Homo sapiens: one gene and its partners. The protein of the gene in region 3 purifies or fractionates together with the protein of the main gene of each other region. This does not show direct contact. Each region holds a gene or a part of one and is shown on either strand. Other genes may lie near its edges.

Region 1 (3,654 bases), on a different chromosome or scaffold from region 3:
GTGACAGCTTGATTTTTCTTTGAACTTCATTTGACTCTTACTTTTATGAAGAATAATAAAGTTGAAGCAATGCTATGGCAACTGCATGGCTTTTTGGTATGTTGTATCTCAGTACTTGTTCCAACAGTTTTATGCCAGGATTAACCTGAAAACTAAATGCCCAAGACTAAAATTAAAGATGGTAACCCTGAGAGTCTCTTAAATTACTTTACAAACCTCATGCTAGTGCTTTATCAGCAGTATTTATATGGGCATGGAGGACTGTTTGAATAATTATCACAAGGTGAACCCATCTGTGGACCATGTCAGCAACAGAACTGAAAGCTACTATAAACCAGGATGTGTGTTGATAGATGAGTGAAAAGTGGAGAAAAGAGGATAAAGCTCCTTTTACCTCCATTCCTTATTCAGGTGAAGACAACATCCCAAACTCTAAATAAATGTTCTTTCAAAGGGCACAGAAAGCCTTCCTAAAACAGTCCTGATAAGGACCAGTTATCACACTATAGGCGTAACTCCAAGGATCCCTGTCCTTGAAGGCGCATGACATAGCCTACTCAGAGGCCAAAGGCTCCTGGGCTTCTGCTAAGTCATAGCTCTAGTGTCTGTTGTCTCTCATTCTCTGTAGACGTGGATTTTTCACTGTTCCTCTGTCTTTGGCCTGTTGCAGTGGAACAACAAACAGGACCACAGGATGAGAGCCTTAAAATACAGGCCAGGCAGTGGCTCATGCTTGTAATGCCAGTACTTTCAGAGGCTGAGGCAGGAGGATTGCTTGAGCCCAGGAGGTTGAGACAAGCCTAGGCAACATAGCAAAACCCTAGCTCTACAAAAAAATTAGCCGGGCAGAGCAGCCTATAGTCCCAGCACCTTGGGAGGCTGGGGTGGGAGGATTGCATGAGCTCAGGAGTTCAAGGCTGCAGTGTGCCATGATTATGCCACTGCACTTCAGCCTAGGCAACAGAGCAAGACTCTGTTTAAAAAAAAAAAAAGAAAAAACTTTCGAGATGCTGTAGTCAACAGTTCAAGGTAATCATCTGGGATTTAAGACCATTGTTCTTTTCTCTTATGTAAGATAGCATTTATTTATTCTCTGCCATTTCCAAAAAGGATTTGAGATTAAAACATACGTTATATAGTAAGTTTAGATATCCTTTAGTCATCTTGATTCACAAGTAGACTTTGTTAAAGTCTTCTATGTAAATTCATCATCCCACATTCTCTTTATTCTTGGTATCTCAGTTGCTTGATAGAAGGCATGGTATGTGGAAATTGGCAAAGTATGTGTAAGCCTCTAACAGTCATTCTTGAGAGGTTTTTCCCAGTTTCCTTTTTGCCATCTGTTGACTACAGGTTCCTGAAGTGGAAGCAAATGTTTTGGGGGAGCCAGTGCCACTTGAGTTTGATTGTGGCTAGTGAAAAGCAGCGGGCCTCTGGAAATACCCAGTGTCATAAGAGAGCAGATCCTTTTCTAAGTTCTAATGTCATTCACCCACTTATTCTCTTAGTGTGAATTGAATGCTATAGTAGACTACATTATCTCTCATCTATATTTGGTGCATAAGTTGGAGCTTATCAATGATATAGTAAGTCTTTTTCTAGTCTCAGATTTTTATCTGTTCTTGTCCTTTGTTTTAGTGTTCCTATATCCCCAGCATGTTGTATTTTGTTTGTTCTAAAATATTATGTACTGCTACCTTCTTAAATTATGTGTGATTAGACATTTTATTTAAGAGTGGTTCAGTTTAATTTTAAAAAGCTTTCTTTTTGGCAGGAAATAACTCTGAAGTAAGAGAAACTGCAATAGAAGTTGGAAAAGGATGTGATTTCCATATTTCAAGTCATTCAAAGACAGATGGTATGATTTTTCTTTAGCTTATTTGTATTAATATACAACATTTTGTGGTTTGATGAATATTATCTATGTAGTAAGAGGAATAATTTCAGCATATTATTTATTAGCAGGATTTTAAAATGCTATTATTGCTAATTTAAGTGATAATATTTAAAATAATTTGATAAGATACCAAAATAGTACAATTAAGACAGGTCAATGCATTATAGTGTGTAGTATCCTTTCTTAAAATTGCTAAGTTAGAGGGCAAGTCTTTTAAAAGATTTAATGGGATATTAGATAGTTTGGCCAATTCAAGTTTTTATGTAAACCAATGCACTGTTTCCCAACTTTCAGGCATTTGCGTACCAGTGTAAGGATTTTCATCCTATCTTTATGCCACCTGTTACGCCATCATTTAGTGTTTTTCTTTAAAAGTCTGCTTTGTCTTTGTTAAAAGGGAAGATTAGCAAATCTTAAAGAGGCTTTTTGGGGGGATTGTTTTTTGTATTTTTTTAATTTTGTTTGGTTTTTGAGACAGGATCTCACTCTGTCACCCAGGCTAGAGTGCAGGGCTCCCTGCAGCCTCAACCTCCTTGGCTCAAGTGATCCTCCTGCCTCAGCGCCCCCTCCCCCAGTAGCTGGGACTACAGGCACATGCCACCACACCTAGCTAATTTTTAACTTTTCTGTAGAGGTGGGATCTCACTATGTTGCCCAGGCTGGTCTCAAACTCCTAAGATCAAGTGATCCACTTGCCCTGGCCTCCCAAAGTGCTGGGATTACAGGCATGAGCCACCATGCCTGGCTTTAAAGAACTTTTAAAAGCATACTAGAACTGGACTGAGACTTTTTTCTTGACTAGTCAGAATAATTAATTAAAATGTAATATTGTGGAATATTTTTCTATTTAATGTTATTTAATGTGGTAACCATTTTTGTCACCACGTAAGTAATGCCTCTAACCCTTAGTTTCCTCACTTGTAAGTAGAAGTCTTAGGCATCATAATCTCTGACAGCCCTTACAAGTTCTGAAGTTACATGATTTGATTTCTTAAAAGGTAAGTGTTGAGATATTTTTTAAATTGAAAAGCAGAGTCTATCGCTTTCTTTGTGAGTACAGATCTAGTTGGCAAAATCAAGTAAAAGAGAATATTCATGTACATTGTCATTCCACCTGTTCTTTGGGTTTCTTAACCATCCTCAGAACATGCAGATAGCATTTCATAGTATGACTAGCCCAGACCTTGTGTTATGTTTTTTATACCAAACACACATGTTAGGGAATTATTTTCCCTTTTGCAAAGAAGTCTTTACATAAGCAGAATATGTTTGCAAAAAAACTAAAATCTTACAAATTTTAAAAAAGAATTCTTGAAAGATTTAAGTAACAAGTTCTCTATCATAGATTCATCTTTCCTTCAGTAGGAAGAAAGCTCTTCCATCTTTGTTATTAGGATGCTCGTAGCAAATGTGAGATATGTGACAAGTGATGACAGATAGTCTCTAATTCCAGCATAAATATGTGAGAAAATATTAACTTTTCTTTCTCAGTGCTTTTTTTTTTTTTTTTTGAGACAGAGTCTCGCTCTATCACCCAGGCTAGAGTGGGTGGCACGATCTCGGCTCACTGAAACCTCTGCTTCCCGGGTTCAAGCAATTCTCCTGCCTCAGCCTCCCAAGTAGCTGGGACTATAGGCACGTGCCACCATGCCTGGCTAATTTTTTGTATTTTTAGTAGAGATAGGGTTTTACCATGTTGGCCAGGCTGGTCTTGAACTCCTGACCTCATGATTCGCCCACTTCAGCCTCCCAAAGTG
Region 2 (3,654 bases), on a different chromosome or scaffold from region 3:
TTCTAAAAATTATAAAAGATTTCCAGTTGCTTATGAAAATCCCAGAAGGACAGAGAACATGTACAGTTTTCAAATACAGCAACCATCCTGGGCCAGCTGTGTGCCTGTGGGGTCACAGGCATTGGGTCCCCAGTGTAGCCTCCCCGAGCCCAGGGCCAGCAGTGCTGAATGAGTACCTCATGGTTTTCATGGCCAAGAAGATCCGAAAGGACTTTGAGCACGAGGCCTGCCACCTTGGCACACATGTTCTTCCCTATGGGAAACAAATCAAAGCTAAACATGACATGTCTAAACCCAGAAGCACAATTTTAGGTCAGGTAGACTTGGAGACAAATCTTGGCTCCTCTGCTCATGAGCTGTATGACCTCGGGTGAGCTGTATGACCTCGGGTGAGTCATGTAACCAATCTGGGCCTCAGTTTCCTCTTCTTTACTACAGGGATTACTATTCATACCTACCTCAAAAGGTGATGCAAAATTAAGTAGACTAATGTATGTAAAGGACTCAGTGTAGCATAGAACCTCGGTGCTCAGTAAACCATCCCAAGTGGTGGCTATTACTCCGGTCAGAGCACAGAGCGAGTCATTACAGTGAAAGCACAATACATTATAGAGCAACGTTCTCCCTCCCACGCACGGACACCACCATCAGGAAGACCATATAGGCATTTTAGTAGTTATAAACATCATCATAAAAATCACTGCAAATATGGTGATGATGATGAAGAAAAGCTAATTCTAATCTGATAAACATATTAGAAGTTAGGACTTTTGGCTGGGTGCGGTGCTTTACGCCTGTAATCCCAGCACTTTGGGAGGGCGAAGTGGGTGGATCACTTGAAGTTAGGAGTTCAAGATCAGCCTTGCCAACATGGTAAAACCCCCTCCCTACTAAAAATACAAAAATTCGCCAGGTGTGGTGGTGGGCACCTGTAATCCCAGCTACTCGGGAGGCTGAGGCAGGAGAATCGCTTGAACCCGGGAGGCAGAGGTTGCACCACTGAGCCAAGATCATGCCACTGCCTCTAGCCTGGGCAATGGAGCGTGACTTCATCTCAAAAAAAAAAAAAAAAGGCTAGGACTTTTTGCATGCTATTTTTTTAAATGACTGAAATAACAGTCATTTACTCAGTCAACAACACACAGTTACATGGTTCAGTCTACAAAGTATATAGAGGGGAAGATGCTCCAACAAGTCCTCCTGAGCCAGCTGTTTACCCAGGGAGCCTTTCTCTCCTAACACTGGATGCTCAGGCTGGGGAAAGCCACAGCCTGGAGGTGGCACCTCTTCTAAAGAAGCTTCTTTCATCCCAGGTAACAATTTAAATGAGATAGTACCTGTACCTGGAAAAGCTCAAATCACTACCTTCAGCGATCAAGTATATAAATGACTGATCAAGTATATAAATGACTTGTGCCCACAGGAGAACCTCCACCTCCAGGGCTGGGGCAGGGAAAAGAGTGTGATTCAGGGCAGGAAGTGTGGTTTAGTGTCACTGCTACTGCGGCCAGCTTAATCCTATAGTATCTTGGGAACACACTTCTTTGTCTTCAGAAAAGGGGATCATATTCTTAATTTCCTACCTCTGAATAATGCAATAAAGAAAAAGGTAAATGAACTTAGTCTCCTCTTAATGCAGGCACTACATATATACAAGACATTTTTTCCAGGGCAAGAATGGATTTTGCCTTCAGGGATTCAACAGCTTGATACCTAGTTGGAAATGCTTTCTACTCCTTTTTCTGTTTTTAGTTTTCTATGAGACTAAAAGCAAACCATATCAGGCTCACTAGAAACCCAGCTTCAAGAGTCAAGATCTCTTCCCCTTCTTGCACTAGAATGAGGGTCGGGGCTGAGACCTGTGCTGCGGAGGCAGAGGTTCATGAGCAAAGCCACCGAGTACTCCAGCGTGTAGTCAGACAGGCAGTCAGGGTCCTTCAGAACATCAACCAGCCAGAAGATGAGGCCGTCTTGAATCATCGCTGTCTGCAGCGGGCGCCTGGGAAGAAAGAGCCTACGGTAAATACAAACTGCCAAGAAACTTTTCATATAAGAGGAAACAGTAGGCTGGAAGCAGTGGCTCATGCCTGTAATCCCAGCACTTTGGGAGGCCAAGGCGGACGGATCACCTGAGGTCAGGAGTTGGAGACAAGCCTGGCCAACATGGTGAAACCCCGTCTCTACTAAAAATACAAAAATTAGCCAGGCGTGGTGACGGCGCCTGTAATCCCAGCTACTTGGGAGGCTGAGGCACGAGAATTGCTTGAACCCGGGAGGCAGAGGTTGCAGTGAGCCGAGATCGTACCACTGCACTCCAGCCTGGGCGATGGAGCAAGACTCTGTCTCAAAAAAAAAAAAAAGAAGAAACAGTAATGTGAATGCATATCAGAAAAGACAAACTTACAGAAGACATAGACTCTGAGGAATATTTTTGTTAAACCCATACAATTGAAATAACAAAAATTCTTTACATTTCAGGGATATTTATTAAGGGTTTAAATAAAGATAAGGTGGTAAGGAGGCCTCCTACTTTGAAAGTTTCCTTTTCAATATTTAAAATTAGCAGAGCATTGCTTCAAATATCTAATAAATATTTATTTGTAGCTTTTGGTTTACTTAACCCAGGAAACAGGACCATAGAAATACTTCTTTGACAAATAGGTTTTTTGTTTTTTTTTCCTGAGACGGAGTTTTGCTCTTATTGCCCAGGCTGGAGTGCAATGGCACGATCTCGGCTCACCGCAACCTCCGCCTCCTGGGTTCAAGTGATTCTCTTGCCTCAGCCTCCCAAGTAGCTGGGATTACAGGCATGCGCCACCACACCCAGCTAATTTTGTATTTTTAGTAGAGCTAGGGTTTCTTCATGTTGGCCAGGCTGGTCTCGAACTCCCAACCTCAGCTGATCTGCCTGCCTCAACCTTCCAAAGTGCTGGGATTACAGGCGTGAGCCACCGTGCCCAGCTGACAAATAGATTTTTACCTAAACGCTCTATAATCCAGCTCTAGGCACTCTGAGCTGTATAAAAATAAAGAAAACAAGGAGGAGCAAAAGCCTAGCTTAACATCACTTTGATTCACATTTCTATAGAGTAAGGGTAGTTTAATGACCTGGTTAATGCAAATTATAAGGAATGATTTTCCACCCAAAGTCCAGGTGTAGAATCTTACAAAATCCAATACCCCATCAAAATGTGTGATGGTGAATGTCATCAGGTTAGCTTTAAGAATTGCTGAGACTAAGTGTGGTATCATTATGAGATGCCATCTGGATTAGTAGAAAACTGACATGCCACAGAGAAGCCAGCTCTGCACATCTCCGGATGCGCAGGTTATGGTGAAACCACCACTCAGGACAGAACAGCAGAACCAGTTATCCGTTCATCCTGTTCTTAAACACTACACTGACCCAATCAGGGTGGCTTATTAGAATACAGTGAAGACTGCGCTCTCTTGGTAACTAGCTACCTTCTTCATTTATTGCAGAGACTCTGGAAAACTGCAAAAAGGTTAAGCACATTTACAGAACAAAAAAGCTTAAATTAACACTTAGAGGAAAAGATAAACAGGCAGTAAACATTTGCATTACCAGGAGGAAGTATTTTTTTCACCATATCTTGTATCTGTTACTTAACTATAGTTATTGAATTTCTAAAA
Region 3 (3,477 bases):
GAGGGGTTTTTTTAGTTTCTAAAATATTCTCAAAGAAAGTCCCATGTACTAATGTTTGCCTTTTGATGAAAAAGGATGAAATCTTAATGATTGCCTTAATAAGCTCAACAATGCTTGTTAGTTGAGTCTTCTTATTGTGCTGATTCTTATAAACAACAACATTCAGTATAAACATTAATGTATGTGATTCACTAAGGTTTTTGCATGATTCTCTGTGAGGCTTCAGATGTCTCTTGGATTATGTGTCTTTTTTTCATCGCCAGCATCCTGTGGCAGCTGCTACTCATTTGCTTCTATGGGTATGCTAGAAGCGAGAATCCGTATACTAACCAACAATTCTCAGACCCCAATCCTAAGCCCTCAGGAGGTTGTGTCTTGTAGCCAGTATGCTCAAGGTAAGTGTTGCATTTCAGACACCATTTATGAGCTATTTACCTGTGTGCAGCTGGCTGTTGTTGGCAAAGGCAAAAGGATGATGCAGTAGAGAGAGCGCAGTGTCTATAGTCAGAAAATCTGAGTGCAAGTCTGGCCCTATCACTTATTAATGGATGATTGCTCATGGAATTTACTGTACCATCCAGCAAAATGTCAATAGTTACTATATATTGAGTGAGCTCTGCTTGTTACATATATTGCCTAACAATGCTCAAAACTCTGAGAAGTAGTAAGTATAATCCCTATTTATGGGCGGGGAACAGGAACTAAGAAATTTTTCTAATAATTTGAAGGTCTCACAGCTTTTAGCATTGGAGTTTCACTTCTAATCATCGTCTCCAAAACCCAACTTTTATTAAAACTATACTAACACTGGTTTCTCTCTGGGAGAATTTTAAAATTCTGTACTTAGGGCTGGGCACAGTGGCTTATGCCTATAACCCTATCACTTTGGGAGGCTGAGATGGGTGAATCTCTTGAGTCCTAGAGTTTGAGACCAGCCTGGGCAACACGGCGAAACCCCTTCTCTATTAAAAATACAAAAAATTAGCTGGGCGTGGTGGTGTGTGCTTGTAGTCCCAGCTATTCAGGAGGCGGAGGTGTAAGAATCACCTGAGCCCAGGAGGTCAAGGCTGCAGTGAGCCGATATCATGCCACTGCACTCCAGCCTGGGCAAACGGAGTGAGGCCCTGTTATGAAAAAAAAAAAATCTGTACTTAGGCTTTCAGATCAGGCTGTATGTGATGTATGTCGAAAACACAGCTATAATTGATTGAGGGAGAAACGTTACCATTTTAAAGTTTATGCTTTCAAGCCCAGATTTGGCCACTAGGAATTTCCCAGCTCACTAGTGAAACTGCTGATGAGTGATTATTTGCCAGTGAGCCTTTCATTCTTTCTAAAATATGTACTACTAGTTGTGACTTGTAGGCTATAGGGGCTATAATATATCAAGACAATCTTTATCCTCATGAAGCTTACAGTTAAGTAAGAGATAGAGATTAAATAATTATAACAACAGAGTGAAGAACAGTGAAGAAAAAGTACAGAGTTATAATATATATAATAGGGCCAGGACTGCATGAGGAAGGTAGGAAAGACATTTCGGCAAGAGGTTGTCAGGGAAAAGACTTGCTTGAGAAAGAGCCAAGTTGTGGGGTCTGGCTGCTTAGCAATGACCATAATACCTAACTTTTGCTATTTTTACATGAAGTAACTAATTTAACCCTATGAGGAAAGTACTACTACCATCTAGATTTTACAGGTAAGTAAGCAGAGATACAGAGAAGTTAAACTCTTCACACGGCTTTGGCTTTAAACCTATATAGGCTTCAGAGCCTCCCCACTTAACCACTTTGCCATAGCTACATCCATATTAGGTGCTAAGTAGATATCTGTTAAGTAGAAGGAGGATGAAAGGATAGTTAGCTAGTTGGAAAATGGATGGATGAATGAAGTGATGCTTAAGCTAAGAACAACTTTCAGGGGTAACATGCAAAGAATAATGGAGCAAAGAAGAAAAAATAGAAAATGGGATAATCCTTTTTCTACTAAGGGGTAACCATGTGTGTTATTCATCTTCAGGCTGTGAAGGCGGCTTCCCATACCTTATTGCAGGAAAGTACGCCCAAGATTTTGGGCTGGTGGAAGAAGCTTGCTTCCCCTACACAGGCACTGATTCTCCATGCAAAATGAAGGAAGACTGCTTTCGTTATTACTCCTCTGAGTACCACTATGTAGGAGGTTTCTATGGAGGCTGCAATGAAGCCCTGATGAAGCTTGAGTTGGTCCATCATGGGCCCATGGCAGTTGCTTTTGAAGTATATGATGACTTCCTCCACTACAAAAAGGGGATCTACCACCACACTGGTCTAAGAGACCCTTTCAACCCCTTTGAGCTGACTAATCATGCTGTTCTGCTTGTGGGCTATGGCACTGACTCAGCCTCTGGGATGGATTACTGGATTGTTAAAAACAGCTGGGGCACCGGCTGGGGTGAGAATGGCTACTTCCGGATCCGCAGAGGAACTGATGAGTGTGCAATTGAGAGCATAGCAGTGGCAGCCACACCAATTCCTAAATTGTAGGGTATGCCTTCCAGTATTTCATAATGATCTGCATCAGTTGTAAAGGGGAATTGGTATATTCACAGACTGTAGACTTTCAGCAGCAATCTCAGAAGCTTACAAATAGATTTCCATGAAGATATTTGTCTTCAGAATTAAAACTGCCCTTAATTTTAATATACCTTTCAATCGGCCACTGGCCATTTTTTTCTAAGTATTCAATTAAGTGGGAATTTTCTGGAAGATGGTCAGCTATGAAGTAATAGAGTTTGCTTAATCATTTGTAATTCAAACATGCTATATTTTTTAAAATCAATGTGAAAACATAGACTTATTTTTAAATTGTACCAATCACAAGAAAATAATGGCAATAATTATCAAAACTTTTAAAATAGATGCTCATATTTTTAAAATAAAGTTTTAAAAATAACTGCATTATGGAGTTTATGTTTACTTCAGGGAATTTTTATCACTGACTCAGTAAGATTCACTTATGTTACCTATGTAAGCATTTATTTAAGAAGGAAAAGCATTTGAAGATATTTCAATTAAAAACAAAACTATGAACCTTTATGACAGGGAGATATACTCAGATAATGCCTAGTGAATCCTAAAATTATCCTTGGATGTTTGATGAGTCTGAGACCTCAGAGAAAAGAAATAAGAGTTTTGACAAAATCTGGATATTGGTGAATTTATTTTCTATGGTGTGTATCTTGTATTTGGGAGTATTGCTTAGTCTTCAGTAGGTGAGCAATAATAGCTTAATGAGTGAAATACTAGCAGCTTAGATTTAAATAGATTTTTGGAATCTCCCAGAGATATTTCACAGTGGATATGAAACCTCTATGCTAAGTAACATATGCCTTCTCTTAGAAATTATGTAACAGGAGAATAAGGCAGTCAGAGCTCTGAAACATAAACACGGACCACAGCCTTTTCAAGCTGGAAAGGACCATAAAGATCATGTAATTTA

What was found.
Region 1: the proteins of CTSC (region 3) and POC5 purify together in Homo sapiens (co-immunoprecipitation; one large-scale study listed by IntAct). This does not show direct contact.
Region 2: the proteins of CTSC (region 3) and ARMC9 fractionate together in Homo sapiens (co-fractionation; one large-scale study listed by BioGRID). This does not show direct contact.

Annotation. Positions count from the first base shown.
Region 1 is NC_000005.10:75,703,908-75,707,561, reverse strand, and holds part of POC5 (centrosomal protein POC5), read left to right. Parts: intron 1-1,774; coding exon 1,775-1,858; intron 1,859-3,654. UniProt on the Homo sapiens protein: Essential for the assembly of the distal half of centrioles, required for centriole elongation. Acts as a negative regulator of centriole elongation.
Region 2 is NC_000002.12:231,274,981-231,278,634, reverse strand, and holds part of ARMC9 (lisH domain-containing protein ARMC9), read right to left. Parts: intron 2,000-3,654; coding exon 1,860-1,999; intron 254-1,859; coding exon 177-253; intron 1-176. UniProt on the Homo sapiens protein: Involved in ciliogenesis. It is required for appropriate acetylation and polyglutamylation of ciliary microtubules, and regulation of cilium length. Acts as a positive regulator of hedgehog (Hh)signaling.
Region 3 is NC_000011.10:88,293,051-88,296,527, reverse strand, and holds the end of CTSC (dipeptidyl peptidase 1 isoform a preproprotein), read left to right. Parts: intron 1-263; coding exon 264-395; intron 396-2,019; coding exon 2,020-2,522; 3' UTR 2,523-2,936; downstream 2,937-3,477. UniProt on the Homo sapiens protein: Thiol protease. Has dipeptidylpeptidase activity. Active against a broad range of dipeptide substrates composed of both polar and hydrophobic amino acids. Proline cannot occupy the P1 position and arginine cannot occupy the P2 position of the substrate.